Homo sapiens: one gene and its partner. The protein of the gene in region 1 purifies or fractionates together with the protein of each later gene. This does not show direct contact. Each region holds a gene or a part of one and is shown on either strand. Other genes may lie near its edges.

The links.
Region 2: the proteins of CTSB (region 1) and COLGALT1 purify together in Homo sapiens (affinity purification with mass spectrometry; 2 studies listed by BioGRID, with this or other methods). This does not show direct contact.

Annotation. Positions count from the first base shown.
Region 1 is NC_000008.11:11,857,803-11,865,087, forward strand, and holds part of CTSB (cathepsin B isoform 1 preproprotein), read right to left. Parts: intron 6,682-7,285; exon of another isoform or gene 6,574-6,681; intron 4,677-6,573; exon of another isoform or gene 4,543-4,676; intron 3,678-4,542; exon of another isoform or gene 3,559-3,677; intron 139-3,558; exon of another isoform or gene 56-138; intron 1-55. UniProt on the Homo sapiens protein: Thiol protease which is believed to participate in intracellular degradation and turnover of proteins. Cleaves matrix extracellular phosphoglycoprotein MEPE. Involved in the solubilization of cross-linked TG/thyroglobulin in the thyroid follicle lumen.
Region 2 is NC_000019.10:17,579,649-17,583,942, forward strand, and holds the end of COLGALT1 (procollagen galactosyltransferase 1 precursor), read left to right. Parts: intron 1-1,050; coding exon 1,051-1,257; intron 1,258-1,528; coding exon 1,529-1,796; 3' UTR 1,797-3,509; downstream 3,510-4,294. UniProt on the Homo sapiens protein: Beta-galactosyltransferase that transfers beta-galactose to hydroxylysine residues of type I collagen. By acting on collagen glycosylation, facilitates the formation of collagen triple helix. Also involved in the biosynthesis of collagen type IV.

The DNA of each region.
Region 1 (7,285 bases):
CAGCCCATTCCACTAGTCCCAGGCTGAGCGCTGGGAAGTTCTTTCAGCCCCGCACCTTGGCCCAGGGCTGTGGTGTTCCTGGCTTCTCTGCTCCTCCCCTATGGTATCCAGGTTGGGGCTCAAGGGGCCGCCAGCGTGCTGCAACCGGACGATAAAATGAGCCCTGCACTTGGAGTCAGGAGACCTGCATTTGGATCTGGCTCTGCCACTGACTAAATGGCACCCTTGGGGTCTGACCTTCCCCAAGCCTCAGTTTCACCACCTATAAAATGGAGCTAGTAACCATCGTGTCTCAGGTGGCAGTCAAGAATGAAATGAGGAGGACCAAAGCGCCGGCACATGCCTGGCATGCAGTGATAAGGTAGGAAGGGCACTCGCTCCAGCGGGCTCTGTTCCCTCCCTCTCTCCTCTAACACTTCTAGCTCTCAGTTCACACTAAACCTATTCCAATAGGTCCCCAACGCCAGGAAGAGTCTAAATGAAAACAAGTTTGTTTTTTTTGTTTGTTTTAAGACAGGATCTCACTCTGTTGCCCAGGCTGGAGTGCAGTGGCACGATCATGGCTCACTGCAAACTCTGCCTCCTGGGCTCAAGAGATCTGCTCCCCTCAGCCTCCTAAGGAGCTGGGACTACAGGCATACACCACTACGCCCAGCTTTGTATTTTTTGTAGAGATGGGGTTTTGCTATGTTGCCCAGGCTGGTCTCAAACTCCTGGACTCAAGTGATCTGCCCGCCTTGGCCTCCCAAAGTGTCGGGATTATAGGTGTGAGCCACCATGCCCAGTAAAACAAGCTCTTAACTTCAATTAACCCCAGCATTTAACATCCAAAAATGCTTCCACTCTTGAGGGTCCCGAGACTGCTGAGAACTCAAAAAGTGTCAAGCCAAACACAGAGGTCCTGACAGCAGTGGCAATCTCACTCCATTGTGCAACAGGCGCCTTTCTCTCCACAACAACGCAAATCTCAATCACTCTGGACAAATGCAGATGGTGAAAGTGACAAGCTGAGCTGTTAACAGCTTTCCAGGGTCTTTGCATGGGACAGCAACCCATTTTCACTTCCCTTTATATAGGCACCCACTTCCCTTTTATTTCTTAATTCTGTGCTTTCTGCTCTGCTTCTTACAAGAGATGATGAACACAAAGTCCTTATTTCACGAGGGAAGGATGTGAACTCTTGTGTGCCACAAGACCCCTTTCCAGGATGCGGGCTGGTGGAAGAACAGCTGCGAGCAGATGTCATCTCTAGACCTTGGTCTGCTGTGCTGCTTAGGCAGACCTGAGTTCCAGTGCACCCCTCTGCCCCTTTTCCAAGCTAATCTTTGGGTTAAAAAAAACAGAAAAGGGTGCTCCTCATATCCTCTCTCTCCAAACCTGCAGAGCACTTATGAGAAAGCACGCTCCACCCCGGCTCTGTAGAACGTTGTTATGTGCCAAAAAGAGTGTGCGGCCAGGCGACTCTATCAACCAGAGCACCTTCCTCCCCCGGCAAACGGCACCCTAGACTACCTTGAAGCCGTTTCCAGGACAAATAGGGACCTTGCGATCCTGGAAGGAGGTGGAATGAAAGTCAAAGGAGAGGAGGTGCGGCTAAGTCACAGGAGGTGTTAAGTCCTGACACCCTTAAAGAATCAGTTTTGGGCTGCCACCAAGCTCAATAAAGAAGGCTTTCTGGCCAGGCACAGTGGCTCATGCCTGTAATCCCAGCGCTTTGGGAGGTCAAGGCAGGCGGATCACCTGAGGTCAGGAGTTCGAGACCAGCCTGTCTCTACTAAACAAGGTGAAACTCCTGTCTCTACTAAAAATACAAAAATTAGCCAGGCACGGTGGTGGGTGCCTGTAATCCCACCTACTTGGGAGGCTGAGGCAGGAGAATCACTTGAATCCAGGAAGCGGAGGTTGCAGTAAGCTGAGGTCACACCACTGCACTCCAGCCTGGGCAACAGAGCGAGACTCTGTCTCAAAAAAAAAAAAAAAAAAAAAAAAAGGCCGGACACAATGGCTCACGCATGTAATCCCAGCACTTTGGGAGGCTGAGGCAGGCGGATCACGAGGTCAGGAGTTCAAGACCAGCCTGGCCAACATGGTGAAACCCTGTCTCTACTAAAAATACAAAACTCAGCCGGGCATGGTGGTGCTGCCTGTAGTCCCAGCTACTCAGGAAGCTGAGGCAGGAAAATTGCTTGAACCCAGGAGGCAGAGGTTGCAGTGAGCCAAGATCACACCACTGCACTCCAGCCTGGGCGACAGAGCAACACTCTGTCTCAGAGAAAAAAAAAGAAAGAAAAAGCTTTCTTACATGGTCACAGAGCCCTCAGGTAGACTGCACTTTAAATCTGTAAAGGATTTAAGGAGACAGGATATGTACACTTAAAATTTCCAAATAAGCCAAGTTGCTAGCTCCTGGCTGATAGACAAAAAAAGTGAAAGAATTCTTAGCAAAGCTGTCATGCAGTATTTTGCTCTTCCTCATTCGTTGGTGCTGTGGCTATACTGCTGGCTCCTCTCATAGTCAGCTCTAAAGAATTGAAAGTTGGCCGGGCACAGTGGCACACACCTGTAATCCCAGCACTTTGGGAGGCCAAGGAGGTGGATCACCTGAGGTCAGGAGTTCGAGACCAGCCTGGCTAACATGGTGAAATCCCATTTCTACTAAAAATACAAAAAATTAGCCAGGCGTGGTGGTTGTGCACCTATAATCCCAACTACTCGGGAGGCTGAAGCAGGACAATTGCTTGAACCCAGGAGGTGGAGGCTGCAGTGGGCTGAGATCGCACCATTGCACTCCACCTTGGGCAACAAGAGGGAAACTCCGTCTCAAAAAAACAAAACAAAACAAAACAAAAACAAAAGTCAAGTGCTTACATTTTGCCAGAAGCCACAAATGAAGACTGTGCCTTATAGGCCAGCAGAGCGGCTAAGAGCACGGGAACAGTGGAAAGGTGGGGAGACTGTGAAGGCTCAGTAAGACCTTCCCAGAGTACTTTGTTTCTTTCTCTTCTATAAAAACTAGTCTTGGCACTCACCGCTAATAACGGCAGTTGCTCCTGAAGTTTTGACCACTTAAGTGCAACCACAAAACAAGACTTCGGCGAGTTTCATCTTCCCCTACTTCAACCTGCCAGACACACCTCAATGCTGGAGCAGCCCTGCACTGGGTGGGAGTGTGCTGACCTCAACTATGCTCTGTTGTGACCCAGAGACCTTTCCTTTTTGAGTATGAATCACAGCCTTGCTGTGGCCTCTGATGTGTTACGTCTTTGCCCCTAATGGAACTGTGTTTAGTAGATTCTTGGCTTATGATTAAATTAAGGACAAAAACAAAATCCAAAGGGCTCTCAGGCCTCGGTCTCATCAGTCCCCTGATGAACGGGCACCAGAGGCCCATCTGTCCCATGGAGCAGGCTCCCTGCAGCTGTAGCCCCGAAGCAACTGAAAACCTGTCAGAAAACCCACCCAGCACACAGGTGTGCAGAGGCAGCAGTGATGCTCACCAGCCTTGGAGGCTTCCAGGGAACCAGGGGAAGCAGAGAAGCCCCACTCCACCTCCCTCACCTGAACCAGGTTGGCCACTCACAGGTCCTTCCCCGTGCTGCCCACCTGCCAATCATCTATGCAAACCAGGTACTGCAGGCCCAGCCCACGCAAGCTGCTCTCCATAGGCCTGAAGACACCTATGAGTGGAATATTGTACAAGGTCAGCCACAGCAACCCCACATCCTGCAGACAAAATGACTACTGTACACTTGAAACAGCAGACACTACGAAGGCCCTCAGCAGTTATTTTTTGTTGTCGTTGTTGGTTGTAAACAAGACAATTTAGTCAATATTCTGGAAAGTTCTGAAAGCTTTTACTCCCCATTTCTGTTACTGACTTGCTCAGATGCTGACAGAGCCAATGCATTCACCACGTCTGCATCGGATACCAAAGGACCTTGGGCCTGCTTTATAAAAGCTTTTAGAGATCCTTTGAGATTGCAATGAGATTAGTGTTCTGCTCATTAGTGTTCTGCCTCTCCAGCTTGCAGAACACGGCGGTTCCCTAATTCAACCGCAGGCGAGATTACACCAGGGTAGTTGAGGCTGACGCGAAGGCCAGCCACAGAAAGGCCTAGCTCTGGGCCGGGCATGCTGGCTCACGCCTGTAATCCCAGTACTTTGGGAGGCTGAGGTGGGCGAATCACGAGGTCAGGAGATCGAGACCATCCTGGATAACACGGTGAAACCCCGTTTCTACTAAAAATACAAAAAAATAGCCAGGCATGGTGGCAGGCGCCTGTAGTCCCAGCTACTCGGGAGGCTGAGGCAGGAGAATGGCGTGAACCCGGGAGGCGGAGTTTGCAGTGAGCCGAGATCACGCCACTGCACTCCAGCCTGGGCGACAGAGTCAGACTCCATCTCAAAAAAAAAAAAAAAAAGAAAGGCCTAGCTCTTGGATCCAGCTAGGTCCTGTTTTCCTCCCTTGGGGCCCTGGGAACAGATACCCATCTCGCAAGGCTGATGGAAGATACAAGGAGACACTCTTTTGAAAGTGCCTACCCTGCACCAGGCTCAGAGCAGCGCCATCTGGGAGAAACTTCCTCAGTCACTGGGAGCGTGAAAAGCCATCTCCTTATACATAGGACAGCCAACGTTTGCATCCCAGAGTCATCATTTCTATTTTCAGAAGTATCCTAATTTGGATGAAAAATAATGGAAATTGTACTATCAGTGACAAGGCCTTAAAAGTTGATTTGTTCTGCTGTCTTGACTGCCAAAGCAAAGCATGTCCCAAACACCAGGAAGGCTGAGTGGGTTGGGAATGGGTGGCAGGTGGCCCCCAGCACTCTGATGTGGTTTGATGATACGCTTCCAACCCTCGAATGGGAAAAGCCTGTGGCTGGCACCGCCCTCCTGGGACTTGCGCAAGCCAGGAAGCTGTGTGACTGTGTGTGTGCACATTCTGCCAGAGTCCAGGTCAGCACGTCAGAGGGTCATGAGACAGCCCGGCCCTCCGGGCTCTTAGGGCAGAATATCTAGATGTCTTCTACAGGGCTCTCTACTGGTCCCGTTACCATCTTGGCCACATTGGGCCCATCCTTCTCCATGCATGCTTGCTGGTGATGCTAGATTATCTTGATGACCAGACCAAAGAAGTTACTGGCCTGGTAAAGACAGATAACACAGTCAAGACTGCCAGCCACACATCCTTCTCAGCACCCAGCATTTAGAAAACATCAGTTCTGGGCTGAGCACAGTGGCTCACATCTATAATTCTGACACTTCGGGAGGCCAAGGTGGGAAGATTGACTGAACCCAGGAGATTAAGACCAGCCTGGGCAGGATAGTGACCTCGTCTCTATATAGAAAATTAAAATTTAAAATAAAAAATAAATAGGCTAGCGGTGGCTCAGGCCTGTAATCTCAGCACTTAGGGAAGCCAAGACAGGCAGATCATGAGCTCAGGAGTTCAACACCAGCCCGACAAACATAGTGACATCCCGTCTCTACTAAAAATACAAAAATTAGCTGGGCGTGGTGGCACACGCCTGTAATCCCAGCTACTCAGGGGGCTGAGGCAGGAGAATCACTTGAACCCGGGAGGCGGAGGTTACAGTGAGCCGAGATTACACCACTGCACTCCAGCCTGGCGACACAGTGAGACTCCGTTTCAAAAAAAAAACAAAAAAACCCAGCAAATATGCCATCACTGACCAACAATAAAAACAGGAAAAGTGTCACTCAACCCATTTATGCCAGAGGTTGCAATTTTTTAAATTTTTGCACGAGTAAAAACATCAGACCTTGGCGATGACCTTGAGCAGTATGATGTAAAAACTCCCACATGCTTAGCGTTCTAATAATGGAACACTAGGCATAAGTGGGTTACTGTTGTCCTACAGCAAAGATTAAATTTGAATTTCTGGTCATGAAATTAAAACAGGGGTACCACTTCAAACCCATCAGATTGGCAAAAATCAAAGTCTGGTACTATCTAGTGTTGGTAAATGTGAGGAACAGGAACTCTGCACACTGCTGGGCGAGTAAATTGATGCAACCACACTGGAGAACCCTTTGCCAGCATCTAGCAAGATGGAAGATGAACACACCTCATGACCCAGAAACAAACTCTCCCACATGTGCCCTGCAGAAACTCTTCTAAGTATCTGGGAGACACAGGATATTTATTGTAGCATGGGATAATAGTGAACACGAAATAACATAACTGTCCCTCAGTAGATAAACACACTGGGCACTTAACACAAATGGACTAGAACTGGATGTAGCAACAGAAATAAATCTCACAACCGTGAGTGAAAAAGGATCCATGTAGTGTAACTGAAGTCATATAAACTTTAATAACATTGTTTATACACTGATGCAGAGTTTTAAAAGTACAAAAAGGCCTGGAGGTGACTCATGCCTTGTAATCCCAGCATTTGGAAGGCCTAAGTGGGAGGAGGCAAGGGGATCACTTGAAACCAGGAGTTTCAGAGCAGTCCTGGCAACAGTGAGACCCTGTCTCTACCAACGAAAAAAAAAAAAAAAAAAAAAAAAACCTGGGCACCGCCTGTGGTCCCAGCTACTTACTACTCGGGAGGCTGAGGTGGGAACCAGATCGCTTACATCTGGGTGGCTGAGGCTGCCGTGAGCCGTGGTCGCACCACTGCACACCAGCCTGGGAGACAAAGCAAGACCCTGTCATTAATCAAACAATAAATGAATGAATGCATGAACAAAAAAATGTGCAGAAGAATCCAAAAGAGGGGCAGCAGACAGGGAATACAATGGCCCTTGGAAGGATCAGGAAACAGGCACAGGAGTGGTCTACAGAGGCGGACGATAAGGCTTGAAACTAAAAAAGAGATTAGTTAAAAGTCTAAACACATGGCTGGGCACAGTGACTCACACCTGTAATCCCAACACTTTGGGAGGCGAGGCGGGCAGATCATTTGAGGTCTCTACTAAAAATACAAAAATTAGCCAGGCATGGTGGTGCATGCCTCTAATCCCAGCTACTCCGGAGGCTGAGGCAGGAACATTGCTTGAACCTGGGAGGTGAGGTTGCAGTGAGCTGAGATTGTGCCACGGCATTCCAGCCTGGGTGACAGAGTGAAACTGTCTCAAAAAAAAAAAGAAAGAAAAAAATGTCTAAACACAGAGTGGAATTTGATCCCTAAACCTCCTACCCCACACAAGCTAGGGTAAATATAAACATTAACAACCATGCCAGGGCGCAAGGTTTGCCTCCCACATGCTCTTTCTCAGGCAGCCTGGGACCAGACGTAGAGACTGCTGCCTG
Region 2 (4,294 bases), on another chromosome or scaffold:
GGGCAAGGCCAGGACTTAGAGGTGGGGGTGGGGGCAGGGTGGAGCTGGGACCTGGGGATGGGTCATGGCTTAGAGGCGGGGCTTGAAGGTGGGGTGGAACTGGAGCCTAGGTACATGGCCAGGGCTTAGAGGTGGGGCTGGGAGGCGGAGTGGAGCTGAATCCTACGGGCGTGGCCACAGCGCTGCAGCTGAGCCTAGAGCCTGTATGTCTGGGTGTGGTCAGGGTGGCAGGCGTGGCCAACCCTTGGAAGCGTAGCAGGAGGGCTCACGTGGTTCCTGGGCCTGAAGGCACTGTCAGGGCTGTAGCCTATAGGGAAGGGCGTTGGAAGGATCACCCAGAACTCAAGGGACCTGGCCGGAAGCCTGCAGGCTTGGTCAAGGCTTAGAGACTTGACTGAGGCCTGTGGAGGTGGATGTGGCTAAAATTTGACCGGGCAGCCTGTGGGCGTGGCTGAAGAGCATGGGGGTGTGGTCAGAGCTGGAGGTGTGGCCGAAGAGTGTGGGGGCGTGGCCAGGGCGCCTGGTCTTAGACAAGCCCCTGGATGGGAGTGCCACCAACATGTTTCCAGCACTGGAGCCGTCCTTCTCTTCTGTAAGTGGGCTGGTTTGTCCTCTCCCTTCCTCCATCTCTTTTTTCCCTTCCATGTGCAGTGCCCTAATCTGCATTCTGGGAACACTGCCCCATGTGAATAGTAACTGCACCCCTCCATTCCTGACTGCCCCCCCATCAGGGCACCTCGCCCACCTCCACCCCCACTGTCCTCTGAACTCAGAGCAGCTTCAGCCTCAGAGAACGTCTGCGTGATCCTGCTCTCCCCAGCTCCAGATCCTCCATGGCTCCCTCACGCCCTTTGGAAAAACTCACTCTTCTCCCCCATGACCGCCAGACCCCTGGGCTCCTGCATTCACTCCATCCAGTCACAGAGCTCTGCAAACATGCTGAGCCTGCTCCCATCCCAGGACCTGACGGGGTAACTAGATCCCTGGCTTTCTGGGCAAGCTCCCTCCGGAGGGCGGGAGGAGAGTGACAGGCCCGATCTTGCACCCCAGCTATGTGGGCCGGAAGCGGATGCAGGTGGAGCACCCCGAGAAGGCTGTGCCTCGCGTGAGGAACCTGGTGGAGGCCGACTATTCCTACTGGACCCTGGCCTACGTGATCTCCCTGCAAGGCGCCCGCAAACTGCTGGCTGCTGAGCCGCTCTCCAAGATGCTGCCTGTGGACGAGTTCCTGCCCGTCATGTTCGACAAACACCCAGTGTGAGAGGGGCAGGCGGCTGCTGGGCTGGGGTTTCACGGTGGGTCTGTCCTGGGAGAATGGGGATGTGAGACTCACGGCCTCCGAGAAGATGTCTCTTCTTTTGCCTACTTCTCCCTCCGTTTGCCCCCTCGCAGATCTGTCTCCATTTGTATCCCCTGCACACTTACGTTTTAATCTGTCCCCGCTGACTTCTTCACCCCCAATTTTTCCTCCAGCTGTCCCGTCCCCTGAAGCCATTGCTGCCCCTCACTCCCCTCCTCCTCCCCCCAGGTCCGAGTACAAGGCCCACTTCTCCCTCCGCAACCTGCATGCCTTCTCTGTGGAGCCGCTGCTCATCTACCCCACACACTACACAGGAGACGATGGCTATGTGAGTGACACCGAGACCTCAGTCGTATGGAACAATGAGCACGTCAAGACCGACTGGGACCGCGCCAAGTCCCAGAAGATGCGGGAGCAGCAGGCACTGAGCCGTGAGGCCAAGAACTCGGACGTGCTCCAGTCCCCACTGGACAGTGCTGCCCGGGATGAACTCTGAGGGGTAGCAGCCAGAAAGCCAAAGCAGCCATCGGTGGCCCAGGCTCCACGTGCTTACTGAGGACATCAGGTCCACCTCTGGACCCCTTGGCAGGCCACAGAGGGCTCTCGTGTGGGGTGGTGTCCAGCCAGCTCTTGCTAAGCAATCACGTGCACACAGGCAGCATTAATGGAGTGCCTACTGCATGCCAGCAACAGGGCTTGGCCCTGGGGAATTGGGAGGAACCAAGCCCTCTTCATCTGTTCATGTGCCCAGCATTTATTAAGCACCTGCTGTATGCAAGGTTCCCATGTTACGGCAGTGAATGAGGCATAATTGTTCCCTCCATCAGCGATTGATTCAGTCATCAAGCAGTTACTGATCAGATTAAGAATCAGGCACTAGTGATACACATTCATTTTTAAAATTCATTCAAGGATTTATTGAGTGCCTACTGTGTGTTGGGTGCCATTCCAGGCTCTGGGATTTTTTTTTTTTTTTTTTTAAGAGTAGAGTCTGTCTCTGTCACCCAGGCTGGAGTGCAGTGGTGTGACGGCTCACTGCAGCCTGCGCCTCCCAGCGTCCAGCAATTCTTGTTTCTCGGCCTCCCAAGTAGCTGGGACTATAGGTGCGTGCCATCACATCTGGCTAGTTTTTGTATTTTTAGTAGAGACGGGGTTTCACCATGTTGGCCAGGCTGGTCTCGAACTCCTGACCTCAAGTGATCTGCCCGCCTTGGCCACCCAAAGTGCTAGGGTTACAGGCATGAGCCACTGTGCCCAGCCCAGGCTCTGGGAATATTGAGATAAATAAGATGCTTCTATCCATTTATTCAAGCACATATTGGTCACCTACTGTGTGCCTGGCACTCATGTCACAAAGATAAGTTCCTGATTCGGTACACTTACTGAGCACCTGCTGTGTGCAGGGAGCTGAGCTATGGGATGGGAATGGGAGTAAACAAGGTACTTTTTACTTTTTTCTTTTTTTCCTCACTGCTAGACGGTGTGGGAACTTCTCACTCATTGGCTTCTTTCCCACACACCTGAAGAGCACTGACTGTGTGCCGGGCACTAGTGATACAAAAGAGTGTGACAGTTGTTCAGTCTGCATTTTCGATCATGGGCTACATGCCGAGTGCTGGGGCACAGAGATGAACAAGATCGGTTCCTTCACTTCTTCATGCCACAAGTGTTTATTGAGCACCTGTGTGCCAGGCCTCACAGACTCCCAGTTGGGTTGAAGAATGGTTGACTGAGTTTGATTCTTCCTGTACCCTCGGTCGTCTGAGCTGTGTGCAGACAACATCCCCCCACCACCCAAGAGGGAGGGTAGCTCTTCCGCCACCAGGGGCAAGCACAGGTCCTGGTGGCCCCACGCCACATGTTAGCCCCCCTGGAGGGGGCGCCAGTTGGAGACGGGGGCTGGGTGTCCCTGGCCCACTCCCGGTCCCCTGTGCTTTACCTCCTTGCCCTTGTGTCTCAGGTGTGGTCCCTGCCTGCTTGATGAAGTTGCTCTGTTCAAGCCTTTGGTGGGATCATGTGTTTGGGGGCTTTTAGGGGACCCAGCTGCACTGGGGCACTGCCCGTGGCCTGGGTAGGACATTTCCCAGCAAGGGCTGGAGGAGTTGCCGTGCCTTCAGCCTGAATCGAATGTCAGAACCAGCCAGCGGTGCTTCACCCTCTTGGGGATAACTTGCTTAGTTTTTTAATAAATGTTCCTGGTTGGTTTTCACAGCAGTTTGTGGGATTTTGCTCGGCACCAAAACACTGCCCACGTTCCCCACCCCTGGATGGCCGACAAGATTTGGGAGGAAACCAGGGCAGGTGCAGTAGGGAAGCTGCCCAGTGGGGCCTGGCATGGTGGCTCATGCCTGTAATCCCGGTGCTTTGGGAGGCTAAGGTGGGCGGATCACTTGAGGTCAGGAATTCAAGACCAGCCTGGCCAACATGGTGAAACCCCCTCTCTATTAAAAGTACAAAAATTAGCCTAGTGTAGTGGGGCGGGGTGGCGGGGGGGGGGTACCTGTAATCCTCGCTACTTGGGAGGCTGAGGCAGGAGAATCGCTTGAACCTGGGAGGTGGAGGTTGCAGTGACCCAAGATTGAGCCACTGCCCTCCAGCCTGGGCGGCAGAGCAAGACACAATCAAACCAAAAAAAAAAAAAAAAAGCTGGCCAGTGGAGCTACTGTGGGGTGAGGGTGTGGTAAGAGCCCTGTGTCCCCTCATGCCATAAAACTTCCCCCAAACAGGCGGGGGACCGACAGCTCTGTCTTGAGTCAACTTCAGGATCCTTCCACATGACTTCGAATAAAGAGGGGCTGTCGTGCTTTGAGTCCCCCTAAAACAGACCTCAACATGAGGATTAGGGCTGGGCATGGTGGTTCACGCCTGTAATCCCAGCACTTTGGGAGGCCAAGGTGGGTGGATCACCTGAGGTCAGGAGTTCGAGACCAGCCTGATCAATAAGATGAAATCCCGTCTCTACTAAAAATGCAAAAAGCAGCCAGGCATGGTGGT